Homo sapiens: one gene and its partners. The gene in region 4 interacts genetically with the main gene of each other region. Each region holds a gene or a part of one and is shown on either strand. Other genes may lie near its edges.

Region 1 (4,042 bases), on a different chromosome or scaffold from region 4:
ATACAAAAAATTAGCCAGGTGTGGTGGCGGGCGCCTGTAGTCCCAGCTACTTGGGAGGTTGAGGCAGGAGAATGGCGTGAACCCAGGAGGCGGAGCTTGCCGTGAGCCGAAATCGCGCCACTGTACTCCAGCCTGGGCGACAGAGCGAGATTCTGTCTCAAAAAAAAAAAAAAAAAAAAAATCATTCTTTCACTTTTCATTTAGTGTATTTACTTATAACAACTTTAAGTAACCCTTGATCAGGTAGCAAATGTGCTGTCATTTTCCATATGTGTTTTTCCTGTCTCCTCCCAAGAGGTAATCTCTTCAAATGAAGGGGGATTCCATGGCATGCTCCCTAGCACTTGACATGGGTGTCTTGTTCATGGTGGGCACTCAAATTTTTTGAATTCATATTTTCCAGAATATCACATCTCATGGTTATGTTTTTCTGAAAACAACTCTTTTGCAATGATTCCAAAAACTCTACCCACTGATAGGGAAGCAAAGGAAAGCCCAAGTTGTTTAAAAGTTTTGTATTATGTCATACAAACTGTCTTCACATACAAGTGCATTAAAAAAATTATCCCCCCCTCCTCCTCCCCAAACATCACAGTAGACCAATTCTTGCTAATATATGACAAAGTTAAAACATATGTCCCCTCTGAATTCTAAACAGCTAATTCTAGACACTAACATCTGGATCTTATAATTTACCGGTCTGGTATGGACATGAACAGTTCCAGTGCCTTTCAACTTATCCCTGAATTTTTCTCTTCTCAAAGTTCTAGGCAGTAATTTTAATGCCCTCAAATTAGATAAAGCTGATTACTTAGAGCTTATAAATTAGCTACACTTTATGACACTAAGAATAGAGCTATGACTTATGCATATCATACCTGTCAAGCTACCTAGCACCACGAATAGAACTAATATTAATGGATGGACTAATACAAGGATCTAATATATGACAGTGATAGTCTTAAAAACACCGATTTGTTATTTTCCTTATATATAATCCAAATTCCTTTCTATCCTTCTGGCAATGTTTCTACTGCCTGACTACCTTAAATAACTATATAGTGTCAATTTCTTGCTTGGGCCAGGTGGTGGCTCATGCCTGTAATCCCAGCATATTGGGAGGATTGCTTGAGCCTAGGAGTTCGAGATCAGCCTGGGCAACATAGTGAAACCTCATCTCTATTTAAAAAAAAAAAAAAAAAAAAAAAAAAATATATATATATATATATATATATATCTCTTAATGTTAATAACAATTCCCTAGGTCACTAGTAATAAGAAGCTATGGGCTTTAAACTTAAAAGGTGCTAAACCAGTTTAAATGTAAAACATTCTCATAATAGAATTGCACTGTATTTCTTTTCTACTTTGATGCTTTTCCAAAGTGCTATAGTTCCTGTGAGATTTGTGTCCTGCACAGAATCAAATGCTAGGTCTTTCACTTTTGGATGGCTGAGTACCATAAAACATGATTTATTTGGTAACAAAAATGTTTCCAGGAGTTTAAAAAGGGACCACTACTCAGAGCTAAAAAAGTTCTAACAGTCACTTTTTAAAAAAGCTAGTTTATCATTTGTTTATAAAGAAAAACACAACTCTGTCCTACTTCCTCTAATAAAAATGGAAAATATTAAGATGAGCTGTGTGCTTATAAAGAGGTGCTACACAAGTCATCTTACGTTTCTAGTCAACACAAACATTGCTTCAGTGACACTTAATATTCAATACATGATGCATTACTCTTAGCATTTTTGCATTTACTCTCCGCATATAACAAGGTCAGATATCAAAACAGTCCTGATCTTAGACAACTCACTACCAATATTTAAAGCTGTTTCCTCCTAGGACTACAGTTCCTAAACTATGCACAGGGAGCAAAGTGGTATTCCCTTAGGATAAACTTGGTCAAGGCTCAGATAACCCTGAGATGAACTTAGCAAAGTCCTTGTAAAGAAATCTTCAGATGGGAAACTCCACCTATGTGAATTTTAAAGCTTTAAGACTGACCCATTCAACAGAAATAGCAGATTTTCTCAGAGCACTGAGTCTAGTGATTGTCCACGTCAAGGAGGCACACACACAATTTTACCCACACCCCTGATGTCTCTTCTGTATGGAAAATGCAATCAGTGATGAAGGGCCGAAAAAACATCTTGCCAGCTGTAGCTCTTTTACAGAGCACAAAGTGGGAGGAAGCAATGAATATAAATGTGTTGGTGTGTGCGTCTGTGGGGAAAAAATAAACCTGTACAAGGCAATGGCTGATCCAACTATGAATTTTGATTAAACACGTTTAGTAATACAGTTATGATTCCCAAAATGTCTACCTTTGAAGGTAAAAAAAAAAAGAAAACCCTGAAATGAAGAGTAAAATAAGGTTCCCAGGAGAAACCTTCATCACATTTTATGCTTCTGGCTGTTCTCACTTATCCCGGTGAATTTGGGCCAAATGTGTACTTCTTAGAAAAGCGAAGCTTGTACTGAGAATACTGTTCTGAACCTACCTTTTTAAGTCCCTGCAAACATATAGCCCAACTTTCCCAAATCTCACCACTCCATAGTCTGCAACAGGTGTCAGCCTCACAGGTATCTGCTGAAATTTGGCACTGATCTCATTAGCCCCAATTTCCCTACATGATTTTTGTTCTGTCTCTAGGAAGCATAGTGTGAATAGAAGAGACTGAGGTCTTTCTCTGGGATAGTCCCAGGAAATTGAAATTAAAGGATAATGTGGAGTGCAGAGCCAAAAACTTCCCTTGTGAACTTAGTCAAACACACATGGTATACATATTCTCCTGGGTATAAACAAATTTACATTAATTAATAGCGCAACAGAACCCAAAACATTGGTAGAACAAATTCTAATGTGACAATTTAAAAGCAGACAGTGCTCCACTGGGTTAATAAATCATACTTAACTAAGAGACAATACTTTAAATACCACATCATTAAAAACTCCTAGTAGGCATGTCCCTCTTATCAGTTAAGTGAAAGAGCAAGCACCATACTCAGTACTGCAGGTTACTGGACTGCTTTGATACAGCACTGCAGTTCACAGATAAACACTTCACATCTTCTCTTCAAGTTACTGAATCTTTCTTCTTCCGGAATGGTGATTTTAGCCTCTTCCATACACTGTTTTTGGGCTTAGATTTTTTCTCCATGGCCAGTACTGCCTCCTTTTCTTTCCTACGTATCTCCCGTACAAGGGCATGGAAAACATCATCAATATAGTAGCGGTATGCAGCAGATGTCTCAAAAAAGGGACAGCTGAATTCTCGGGCCAAGGCCAATCCTTCTTCCTTGGTGACCTTTAAGGGCAAAATGTGAGAAAAGATAACAGTGAAAAACAATTAAATTGTCCAAAAACCTGAATGCACCACCACCTTAACACAAAGAAAGCTTCTCAATTCTGGAGGTGTTCAAGCATACAGCACTAATTTTTGTAATTTTAGGCTAGATTACTTCTAAGGTTTCTTATTCTGCCTTCAAATGATATGATTCTATTTCTAGTCTACTTTTTTTTTTGAGACAGAGTTGCGTTCTTGTTGCCCAGATTGGAGTGCAATGGCATGATTGTGGCTCACAACCTCGGCCTCCCGGGTTCAAGTGATTCTCCTGCCTCAGCCTCCTGAGTAGCTGAGATTACAGGCATGCGCCACCACACCTGGCTAATTTTGTATTTTTAGTAGAGACGGGGTTTCTCCATGTTGGTCAGGCTGGTTGTAAACTCCTGACCTCAGGTGATCTGCCCACCTCGGCCTCCCAAAGTACTGGGATTACAGGCGTCGGCCACTGTGCCCGGTCTCTAGTCTATTTTTAAGATACTTTTTGGAACAGGGAATAGTTTTAGATATCAAATACACAATCTTAATTTTCCCCATACTTTTTATTTTAAGAAAGATAAATAGGCTGGGCTTGGTGGCTCACACCTGTAATTCCAGAACTTTGGGAGGCTAAGGTAGGAGGATTGCTTGAGCCCAGGAACTTGAGACCAAGCTGGGCAATATGGTGAGACCCTACTTTTACAAAATTTTTAAAA
Region 2 (3,165 bases), on a different chromosome or scaffold from region 4:
AGATTCTGGCATTTATTAAGTCTTGCCAACATGAATGTGGTGGAATAAGTGCTAGTATCGGACATGATCCTCATCTTTTATACACTCTTAGTGCTGTCCAGGTAAATACTAATCAAAATTGCAACGATCTTGATAGTATGTTCTCTTACTTCAGAGTTGGAAATTGAAACTGTATCAGGATTTGGTCAAAAAGTTTTGTTACAAGTGAAGCTGTCCTACAAGGTCAATGATGTAATGGCATGTATTAGCTGAATCTAAAGTTGATGTGAGTTCTAAAATTACACTGAGACCTTGGAGGGTAAAATTTTTATCTTCAGTATGTGTAAATACTGTAAAATAGCTAAATGGAGCTATTTGATTTTGATATTAGTGAACATCTACCTGGTGGTTTAAAGTCTTTCTGGTACTACTGGGTGCTGAGATGGGAAGATCAGGACTTTGTGTGGATGTGAGTTAGTATACTTGAGTATCTTGGAATGCCAAGTTAAAATTTATATGTAGAAAATTATACTTTAAAGATTTGAGTTTTCTTGATACTATCTAATTTTATTCAATAACAGGAGAGTCTGCATATTTGAGAAAAGGTTATATACACAGAGACAAAAGGATGTGCTTGACAACTTAAAAAGAGTTGAGCATAAGATCATTAGAATAAACCTGAAAGGGACATTTACCTAATACTTGTCTTTATTGCAGATTCTTACGCTGTATGACAGTATTAATGTTATTGACGTAAATAAAGTTGTGGAATATGTTAAAGGTCTACAGAAAGAAGATGGTTCTTTTGCTGGAGATATTTGGGGTAATGTCAGATTTAGTCCATTCTACCCAAAATACCAATATTAAAATGTACTGGTTTTGCTAGTAACCAGTTTATAAGTTTTTCATCTTTTCAGGTCCCACTAAGCAGCTGGTCTAACTGGAGTTAATGGTCTGCTGGAACTTCCAGCATGCACTGTGGTAGTTATATCAGCATATACAGGAGCACTGGAACAGAGGGGGCCAGTCTAAAAGATAAGGTAGGTGGAATTTTTTTCCCCAATATTTGGTGGCTTTGTAAAGTTTTTTAAAAACTACTTGCTGGAAAGGGAAAAATATTTAAAAAAAAAAACTTTACAAACTTGCTGAATATTTGAGTGGAGGGAGGGAATAGAATTTTATTTGATAAACGTAGATAATCTCTGCTTTAGGGATGAACACAGTGCAGGCCAGAGAGACCAGCTGCTTCATGGGATGTGAAAAATCTACTTTTATAAAGTAGGGTAAGTTTATTTCATTATTAGAAATGGACTAATACTTTGGGTTCTATTAGTTTTCTTCTCTTTGGTTTTCTTCTCTTTCTGGGCTTTCTTTAAGCAGCTTAAGATAATTTGCTGTTACTTTTTTGTGGCAGGGTCTTGGCTCTGTCCAGGTTGGAGTGCAGTATTTTGGGAGACAGTTGCTGGGGCTGGAGAGCTCTGTTGCCCAGGCTGGAGTGCAGTGGTGCAATCTTGGCTCACTGCAACCTCCACCTCCCAAGCTCAAGCAATTCTCCTGCCTCAGCTTACAGAGTAGCTGAGATGTGCACCACAACACCTGGCTGGTTTTTGTGTTTTTAGTAGAGATGGGGTCCCCTGGCCTCATGTGATCCTCCTGCCTCGGCCACCAAAAGTGCTGGGATTTCAGGCCTGAGCCACAATGCCCAGCCCCACCTAATTTTTTTTAAAAAGTTTTTTGTAGAGATGGGGTCCCATTATGTTGCCTCGGCTAGTCTCAAACTCCTAGGCTCAAGTGATTCTCCCACCTCAGCCTCCCAAAATGTTGGAATTATAGGCAAGAGCTACTGTGCCTGGTCAATTTGCTGTTATTTTTGACAAAGGAATTTTCTTGGGAAGTAAAGGCACTTCAGATTTAGCTTTCCTCCTGACTACCCTAAAGTGAAAGTTAAGCTTGAACTCAATTTAAAGTGGTAGTTGTGCAGTGTTTGTTTTTAGATGACTCATGTATGATTTGGTAACACCTGCCTTGATTTGATCTATTTTTATTGTAGGAGAAATTGACACAAGATTCTCTTTTTGTGCGGTGGCAACTTTGGCTTTGTTGGTAAGCTTTGAATATTTGATTGAAATGATTAAAGTTCATGAATACTCTGGAATTTTTTTTTTTTTTGAGTCTGATCTGCTGAATACTCTGGAATTTAACAGGCATCTTTTTTTTTGTTTGTAGGGGAAGCTTGATGCTATTAATGTGGAAAAGGCAATCGAATTTGTTTTATCCTGTATGAACTTTGACGGTGGATTTGGTTGCAGACCAGGTTCTGAATCCCATGCTGGGCAGGTAATTTATGAATACAGATGAAAATGTATTGTCATTTTGGAAGCCAGTGTAGTAAAATAAGAAAATTGGTTATTTCAGTGTTTGTCAAATACACATAAAGTTAATTCGACTGTAATAGGGCATCTTACATAAGAATTGCTTAATTGCTATCATTACTTTGCTTTATATACTATATACCTTTCTCTGTCGGTGGATTCGTCTGACCTAAGCAAACATAAGTGGGTTTATAAGCACCAAAACACTTTTGTTTTCCATTAATTTTTCACTAACCATACAGATAAAAAAAAAAACAACACATTTTTCTTTCTTTCCTAAGATAAATTATGAACCTCTTTTCTTGTGCCAGAGAACACTGAATATGTGAATGGATGGCTGTGAAATACTAGCCATGAAGAAATTTTGACAATAATATTTCAGTGCAGAATTGCATACTAGTAATAGTATGCTTGGATTTTTTCAGATATGTGGTATTAATACATGTTTGGAATTTTAAGTGTCAGATCAAGAAGAAAAACTTAAGATATAAAGTGGTGTTTTAATAATTTGAGTTTTATCACTTTTAATGTCAAGAAATTATTATACACATAAACTTTATGTCTGTAATTTTAGATCTATTGTTGCACAGGATTTCTGGCAATTACAAGTCAGTTGCATCAAGTAAATTCTGATTTACTTGGCTGGTGGCTTTGTGAACGACAATTACCCTCAGGCGGGCTCAATGGAAGGCCGGAGAAGGTATTGTTTGATAAGCCATATTCTGCTAGCTTTAGAACCTTGAGTGAATGCTGCTGCTTTGTCTTGCCTGTTTCTATATTGTAAATTGGCCATGAGCTTATTTATTACCTTTCC
Region 3 (3,500 bases), on a different chromosome or scaffold from region 4:
TTCCTGGTCTTTGGAACCTGGAAATGGATTTATGTGAAATCTTAATTCCTCTAAAGTAAAGTGATATATGATATACACCAAGTTTAACCTATAAATCAGGTTTTAGTAAAATTGCCAGATAAATCTGTACAATGGTCAAACTAGAGAAATTCAGTTTTTAATCCTCCCAAAATGACTTGAAGTAGAATTTACTGTTTCTTTACTATATATCAAATTTGTATAACTAGGAAGAGGTACATATGCTCTCCTACTAGGGAAATACAACATATATATTAGCTGGATAATGATTTACATTTACATTTTTGCACCTTTATGAAATTTGATAAACTTCTAGAACGCTTGTTTTTAAATGTTTAACAATGTAAAAGTTGTTCAGCAATTTTTTTTAACTCCTAGCATTACAGAAGTTAATTTCTACAAAACTGGTTTTCTGGGCTCACAGGTAAATGTAACCAGAAAAAGCCCTAAACAAATTGATGGAATATAGATGGATCAATTTCTTAGTACAGTCATGTACCACATAATGACATTTTGGTCCACAGGAGATTGCATATGTGATAGTGGTCCCATAAGATTATAATGGAGTTTAAAAGTTCCTATTGCTTAGTGATGTTATAGCCATCCTAACACTGTAGTACGACACATTGCTCACGTGTTTGTGGTGATGCTGGTGTAAACAAACCTACTGCACTGTCAGTTGTATAATGGTATAGCACCTATATTGTTATTTTATAGTGTACTCCTCCTATTTACTAAAAAAAAAAAAAAAAAAAAAAAAAAGTTAACTATAAACAGCCTTGGATAGGTCCTTCAGGAGGTATTCCAAAAGAAGGCAATGTTATTATAGGAGATGACAGCTCCACGTGTGTTACTGCCCCTGAAGATCTTCCAGTGGGACAAGATGTGGAAGTGGAAGACAATGATATTGATGGTCCTGACCCTGTGTAGGCCTAGGTTAATGTGCATGCATGTCTTAGTTTTTAACAAAAAAGTTTAATAAGTAAAAACAAACAAAAAATTTTAAATATGGAAAAAAGCTTACAGAATAAAGATATAAGGAAAGAAAAATTTGTATAGCTGTATAATGTGTGTTTTAAGCTGTATTACAAAAGTCAAAATGTTAGGAAAAATTAAAAAGTTTAAAAAGTTACAGTAAAGTAAGGTTAATTTATTATTGAACAGAAATTTAAAAAAATATATAAACTTAGGGTAGCCCAAGTGTAGGTTTAGACACACAAAACTTACCATTGTGTTAACAATTGCCTTATAGTCATTAGTACAGTTACATACTGTACAGGTTTGTATCCCTGGGGCAAGAGACTATACTACATATCCCAGGTGTATAGTAGGTTATACTACCAAGGTTTGTGTAAGTATATTCTATGATGTTTGCACAATGACAAAATCACCTAACAATGTATTTCTTAGAAAGTATCCCTGTCATTAAGAGACATATGACTACATATAACAATTAATTCCTTCCTATCTTTATGTATTCATTTCCTATATGTTAAACTCTTCATACAAACAGGTTAAATAATAGCAACTGAAATTATTTTATTTTACCTGAAGAAAAAGTCATTTTTAAAACAAAGATGATTTTTGAAACAAAATTCAGGTTCTCTCTGGCAATAATTTTTGTCAGAAAAATGCATTAAATGAGTAACAGAATTTCTGTTGGCTTTCTGGGTATTGTCTTTCTTTAATGAGACCTTTCTCCAGAAATAAACACATCCTCAAAAAAATTCTGCCAAAGTAAAATTCTTCAAATACAACAACGTTTAACCTAGAAACATGACATAATGGTTTAAAAGTACTACCGAAATAGAAAACGCAAAAATTTGTTGCCCTGTTCTTTATATATATATATATATATATATATATATATATATATATATATATATATGTAACCATGGGAAAAAAAAATCCCCACCTCTTGAATTCTAAATGTTAACATGTGCTCAGAATTGAAGAGAAATTTTCAATGTAGAAAGAAACCAAAGCCAAAAGCAGTACCATGGACACTGGATTAAGAAGCAATGCCCTCTCAAGAGACAAAAACATTTACTAAATATTGTTTTATTTCCTAGTATAGCATAATTGAGAGAAAAACTGATATATTAAATGACATAACAGTTATGATTTTGCAGAAAACAGATCTGTATTTATTTCAGTGTTACTTACCTGTCTTGTCTTTGCTGATGTTTCAATAAAAGGAATTCCATAACTTCTTGCTAAGTCCTGAGCCTGTTTTGTGTCTACTGTTCTAGAAGGCAAATCACATTTATTTCCTACTAGGACCATAGGTACATCTTCAGAGTCCTTAACTCTTTTAATTTGTTCTCTGGGAAAGAAAAAAAAGTTATAGCACAGTCATTAGTAACACAAATATCTTTCAAAACCTGTCCACAACTTTTGTCATAAAATTTGGCTGAAAGAAAACAATGTAATTCCTAGTTTCCACTACACCAAATTTTCCTTCCTTCTTCTACTAGTTATTTTGTTTCTTTACCTTTTTAAACAGAAACCTTGTATCTCTCTCAAAAGATCAAATACCTAGAAGTATAGTAAAACTATAACCTAATAGGTTAATATGCAGGTAGATCATAATAGTAAAACAGAAACTACTGAAAAATTCTAGACCCAAAGTGCTATATAACAGACTATAATTTTAGAAACGTATGTTAAATGTGTAAAGATAAAAAATATTTTACAAAAACCTGAATTAAAGCATTAACATAATTTTCATATTACTTTTTCAAAAAACAAAGTGGACAACTAGAAAGATTTTGATTTCTAGGTAGGCAACACTGAAGTTACTACACCACTTATTCCATTAAAAGCCCTTCTACATGTTAATCATTTTCAATATAACAAGTGCATAAACTCTAAATTTGGGGTGAAATTACATTCCCTCACAATTTTAGGTGACTTTCAAAGACACAGCACAAAAGAAGGAGCAGAGCAGACAACAGAGTCAGAATTGGCTCAAATTCCCGGTTCCGAACACCATTAGCTGGGTAAACTTGGATAATAGAGCTGAAATTTGGTAACTCCTCTATAAAAATACTACCACTACCACCCACCCAAATGTCTTTTCCTCTATTACTAGACTATACAGTAAACATGCTGTAACAATGTTCTTAAATAAAATGTTAAACTTCTTATAACTAGGCTAACTCGTTATTATATGACATAGCCACTGAGTGATTCATTTGCTTAATATGTAGTTTTTGGAAAACTAAACCCTCAAAGAAATAGAATATAAAATAGTATAATAATGATTATTTTAATAGTTTTATGCAGCTTTGTCAGATTTAAGAGAACTGTAATGCCCAAATTCTTCAATCTTTCAAAACTTTTATTTTTTAAAATATATAATGCCACTGTTTATCCAATCCAAGCAATTCTATGCTATACACACGATTGCTTTTAAGACTGTTAAAGTGACACCATCTCAAATCATCTTTTCATATTCTTTTTTATGGTTTTCTTTTTTA
Region 4 (4,957 bases):
AGAGAAGCTGACTTCCCTGGGCGCACAGCAGTGACAAGCCCTGGAAGTTACATATCTCCTCCACCTGTCCCCCCATCTTGCTTTGGCAGTGCCTCAAGGGTCAGTTGGTCAGAGCAGCTTTGGATCTGGGATTAGCCTTTCTCATTTGCTGGGGTGAAGACACGTTCTGCACATACCAAATACCTCCAAAGTAGGACTGTATGTGTCTTGTACATTTTTTTTTTTTTTTTTAACATGGGGAGGGATTAACAAGAGATGGCATTAAGACCTTGGATAATAAACCTAGTTGCATCTGCTGGTCATGGTAGAGCTGCTGTGGTCCCTTGCAGCCCACAGTGGCCCTGCCTGGAAACCTCAAGCAGGATGTGCATCTTCTGCCTGCCTACTGATCTCCATCACTTGGAGTACCCCAAAGGCCTCTTTTTCACCTCACTTGCCCAGCTGTCCTAGCGGCATAGGATGGTTGTGTGGTAGACCAGAGGCCTGTTGTGTATATTTTTGTTGGGTTATAGCCACCCCTGTGTATCTACATGCACAAGGGCAGAGTTGTAGTTGTGGCAGAAGCTGTAGCCTACAAAGCCTGAAATATTTCCTACCTGACCCTTTATTATTTATTTTCAGGGACAGGGTCTAGGCCTGTCACCCAGGTTGGAGTGCAGTGGCACAATTATAGCTCACTGCAGCTTCTTGGGCTCAAGTGATCCTCCTGCCCCACCCTCCTAAGTAGCTGGGACTACAGGTGCCTATCAGTCACCATGCCTAGCTAATTTTTTTTATTTGTAGAGATGGAGTCTCACTATGTTGAACTCCCAAGCTCAAGCGGTCCTCCCGCCTCAGCCTTCCAAAGCACTGGGATTACAGGCAAAGTTGACCAGCCTCTATTCTAGAGTTTAACATGTTCCACCCAGTTTGGCAGTCAGCTTATACTGATCATGGGAGTGATCTTGTTTTACCAAAGAGGAAGCTGTGGTGCAGACGGGCGAAGGGACTTGCTGCAAGTTACCCTGGGAGGGCTTGGCAGGGTGGCTCTGTCCAAAACTAGGTTCCCTGCTATATTCCCTTTTTTCTACTCATAAGAGTCTGGCCTATTTTGCCTCCTCAGATTTGAGGCTAAAGTGTGCTAAAGCAGCGCCCTTGCTGAGCAGGGCCAAATTGTGGAGACCTATAGGAATGAGTGTGAGGTAGACAGGTCTTAATCCTGGGGTTTGGGGGTAAAGAGGCCCATGGTAGAAGATGGGGCCCTCTTGAGGGTGGTCTGGAAATGGAGCAGAGCTGTAGGAGTAAGCAGTCCCAAGGCAGTGGTGTAGGAGGCAGGGCAAGGTAGAGGAAGAACCCGCAAAGACTTGCTCTCACTGGACGTTCAAGGGATGGCCGCCATGGGTCTTTATGAAGGGGGTGGTGCAGTGTAGCCCCGGACAGGCTTTTTTTTTTTTTTTTTTTTTTAAACAGAGTTGCACTGTCACCAGGCTGGAGTACACTGGTGCCGTCTCGGCTAACTGCAACCTCTGCCTGCCGGGTTCAAGCAATTCTCCTACCTCAGCCTCCCAAGTACCTGGGACTACAGGTGCCCGCCACCACGCCCAGCTAATTTTTCTATTTTTAGTAGAGACGGGTTTTCACCATGTTGGCTGGGATGCTCTCGATCTCTTGACCTCGTGATCCGCCCGCCTCGGCCTCCCAAAGTGCTGGGATTACAGGCATGAGCTCCCGCACCCAGCTGGACAAGCCTCTTGCTGTCTTAATTCTTTAAAGGACCTGCTGAAGATGGAGATGTGGGAGTCCAGTTTGGTGTCCTGGTGTGCGTCTGAGAGCAGCTGCTGAATTGGGATGTCTGGAAACACTTCTTGTAGGTTGGAGGCTGCTCCATCTCTGGCTCCTGCATGGGGCTGGGCACCCACTTGTGCTATGATAGTAGAAAGAATGAGATCTGGGAGGCATCACAGAAGTGAGTTAAGGGATGAATCAAGGTCAGGAGAGTGGTTTCTTACAAGTTCGGCAGAGAAGGGTCAGCTAGAGTGTGCTGGGGAAGTTCTTCCCTGCCTTTGACTCAGTAGGTCAGGATGGGACCACCGGTCTGGACTTTGCTGAGCTGTGATGACTCCTAAGGAGCCGTGCTTGGTTGGTCTGCCCCGTGCTCAGATCCAGAGGGACCCTCCCTCTCGGTCTAGCAGGAACACAGCTGCCCTCCCTTGACCATGAACTCACAGTAGAGTGGAGAGGGGTGGCCTCCTTTACAGTTCCAGGTAGGGGGTGATTCCTGGACAGGGGTTCCTGAGAGGAGTGGGTTGCCATCCCAAGAATGCACACAGCAGAGGAGCAGAAGGCCTCTAGCATGGAGGAACTGGAGGAGAACCCATTTGTGACAGCAACTTGCTCGCAATTGGCCCTCATGAGTACCAGCTACGGCGGTCTGCATTTGTGCAGCTCCACATCAAAAGCTGGGGCTGGAACCTTGGTCTCCAGGGGGTGAGGAAAAAGGTCAGTGTTTTAATAGAACGCGGTATTTCAACTCTTAGCATTTTCCAATTTGTGAAGTTAATAACCCTTCCTCTCCCTTCTAGTGGGTCAGAAAAAAATAATTAGCATGAACTGGGATAGCAAGGGAGGAGCTTGTAATATCTGACCAAGGTTCTCCATGCCAAAAGGTTTTTATACAGCCTTAAGAAAAATTTAAGCCTCCATTGAAGAACCTAATAGGCCTTTGGGAGGCCAAGGCAGGCGGATCACCTGAGGTCAAGAGTTTGAGACCATCCTGACCAATGTGGTGAAACCCCGTCTCTACTAAAAATAAAAATTAGCCAGGCGTGGTAGCAGGCGCCTGTAGTCCCAGCTACTGGGGAGGCTGAGACAGAAGAATTGCTTGAACCCCGGAGGCAGAGGTTGCAGTGAGTCTGAGATCACGCCACTGCACTCCAGCCTGGGCAACAGAGTGAGACTGTCTCAAAAAAAAAAAAAAAGCACCTAATAGGCCTTATGGGAGCTTGTTCTCTACCAGTCACTGTGCTCAAGGTTTAAGTAAAGTGTCTCCTTTAGTACCGCAGCACAAACCACCTGGAGGATAGGTGGGTCCTGTGTCCCTCCTGAGGAGGAACGGTGTCAGGATTCAAGCTCCTGTCTGACTGCTCTGGGCGCTAGTCCCAACCCAACAAGACTGAGGTTGAGTGTCCCATTTCTGGTGTACAGCCGCTTTGGGCATCTCTGCGCTTAGGAGTGTGTGCCTTATTCTTAAAAAGCAAGATAACAGAGGCCCGGCGCGGTGGCTCACACCTGTAATCCCAGCACTTTCGGAGGCCGAGGCGGGCGGATCATGAGGTCAAGAGATCGAGACCATCCTGGCTAACATGGTGAAACCCCATGTCTACTAAAAATACGAAAAAATTAGCCGGGCGTGGTGGCGGGCGCCTGTAGTCCCAGTTACTGTAGAGGCTGAGGCAGGAGAATAGCATGAACCCGGGAGGCGGAGCTTGCAGTGAGCTGAGATCACGCCACTGCACTCCAGCCTGGGCGACAGAGTGAGACTCCGTCTTTAAAAAAAAAAAAAAAAAAAAAAGGCCGGGCGCGGTGGCTCATGCCTGTAATCCCAGCACTTTGGGAGGCCGAGGCGGGCGGATCAGGAGGTCAGGAGTTTGAGACCAGCCTGGCCAGCATGGTGAAACCCCATCTCTACTAAAAATACAAAACATTAGCCAGGTGTGGTGGCGTGTGCCTGTAGTCCCAGCTACTCGGGAGGCTGAGACAGGAGAATTGCTTGAACCTGGGAGGCGGAGCTAGCAGTGAGCCCAGATGGCACCACTGCACTCCAACCTAGGCAACAGAGAAAGACTCCGTCTCAAAAAAAAAATAAAGCAGGATAACAGGAAAAGCTATTCTGCGTTCCCCAGTCCTGGGTACTGTAGTTCAAATGGGAGAGCAGGTCTCCACCCAGAGCCCCAGGGCACAACCAGCTACAGGGCCCAGAGGGATGGCAGCAGCTGCTGGGTATTTGAGCTGGTCTGAAAGGGTGGAGGTTTCCAGTGATGTCACTCTCTGGCAGGATTGTGGGGGGTGGCTTACGCCAGGTGAGTCTGTCTATTGGTCCTGGTTATGGGCACTTATTACCAGGCAGTGGCGTAGGGGGTAGGGCCTGGAGTGAGGTGGGGATTTTAAAGTGAGCAGATGCCAGAGGTAGTGAGCCAACAGCAGGGCTGTGCTCTTGGCCCCCAGCAGAGCATGGTTGTATAGTATCAGCTGAGGATTGGTTCCAGGATGAACCCCAATACCCAAGTCCACAGATGCTCACCCTTACTATAAAATGGTGTAATATCGGGGCCAGGGGCCGGGTGCGGTGGCTCAACCCTGTAATCCCAGCACTTTGGGAGGCCAAGGCAGGTGGATTACGAGGTCAGGAGATTGAGACCATCCTCGCTAACACGGTGAAACCCCGTCTCTACTAAAAATACAAAAAAATTAGCCAGGCGTGGTGGCGGGCCCCTGTAGTCCCAGCTACTCTGGAGGCTGAGGCAGGAGAATGGAGTGAACCCGGAAGGCAGAGCTTGCAGTGAACCGAGATTGCGCCACTGCACTCCAGCCTGGGCGACAGAGCGAGAGACTCCATCTCAGAAAAAAAAAATATCGGGGCCAGCACAGTGGCACACACCTGTAATCCCAGCACTTTGGGAGGCCAAGATGGGTGGTTCACTTCACTCCAGGAGTTCAGCCAGAGCAACATGGCAAAACCGGGTCTCTTCAGAAATTATCTGGGCGTGGTGGCTTGCACCTGTAGTCCCAACTATTCAGGAGGTCAAAGCTGCAGTGAGCTGTTACCACTGCACTCCAGCCTGGGTGACAGAATGATGCCCTGTCTCCAAAAAAAAAAAAAAGTATAATATTTGCATATATCCTATGTAGATGTTTTACTTTTGAGACAGAGTCTCACTCTGTCACCCAGTCTGGAGTGCAGTGGCATGATCTTGGCTAA

The links.
Region 1: changes in RPS19 (region 4) and RIT1 together harm fitness more than expected from each alone (negative genetic interaction), as found in Homo sapiens cells (one large-scale study listed by BioGRID).
Region 2: changes in RPS19 (region 4) and RABGGTB are lethal when combined (synthetic lethality), as found in Homo sapiens cells (one large-scale study listed by BioGRID).
Region 3: changes in RPS19 (region 4) and KRAS impair growth when combined (synthetic growth defect), as found in Homo sapiens cells (2 studies listed by BioGRID, with this or other methods).

Annotation. Positions count from the first base shown.
Region 1 is NC_000001.11:155,897,308-155,901,349, forward strand, and holds the end of RIT1 (GTP-binding protein Rit1), read right to left. Parts: intron 3,312-4,042; coding exon 3,081-3,311; 3' UTR 501-3,080; downstream 1-500.
Region 2 is NC_000001.11:75,789,256-75,792,420, forward strand, and holds part of RABGGTB (geranylgeranyl transferase type-2 subunit beta), read left to right. Parts: coding exon 1-101; intron 102-221; exon of another isoform or gene 222-292; intron 293-696; coding exon 697-802; intron 803-896; exon of another isoform or gene 897-1,019; intron 1,020-1,190; exon of another isoform or gene 1,191-1,262; intron 1,263-2,029; coding exon 2,030-2,082; intron 2,083-2,205; coding exon 2,206-2,316; intron 2,317-2,925; coding exon 2,926-3,051; intron 3,052-3,165. UniProt on the Homo sapiens protein: Catalyzes the transfer of a geranylgeranyl moiety from geranylgeranyl diphosphate to both cysteines of Rab proteins with the C-terminal sequence -XXCC, -XCXC and -CCXX, such as RAB1A, RAB3A, RAB5A and RAB7A.
Region 3 is NC_000012.12:25,223,430-25,226,929, forward strand, and holds part of KRAS (GTPase KRas), read right to left. Parts: intron 2,345-3,500; coding exon 2,185-2,344; intron 1-2,184. UniProt on the Homo sapiens protein: Ras proteins bind GDP/GTP and possess intrinsic GTPase activity. Plays an important role in the regulation of cell proliferation.
Region 4 is NC_000019.10:41,862,422-41,867,378, forward strand, and holds part of RPS19 (small ribosomal subunit protein eS19), read left to right. Parts: intron 1-4,957. UniProt on the Homo sapiens protein: Component of the small ribosomal subunit. The ribosome is a large ribonucleoprotein complex responsible for the synthesis of proteins in the cell. Required for pre-rRNA processing and maturation of 40S ribosomal subunits.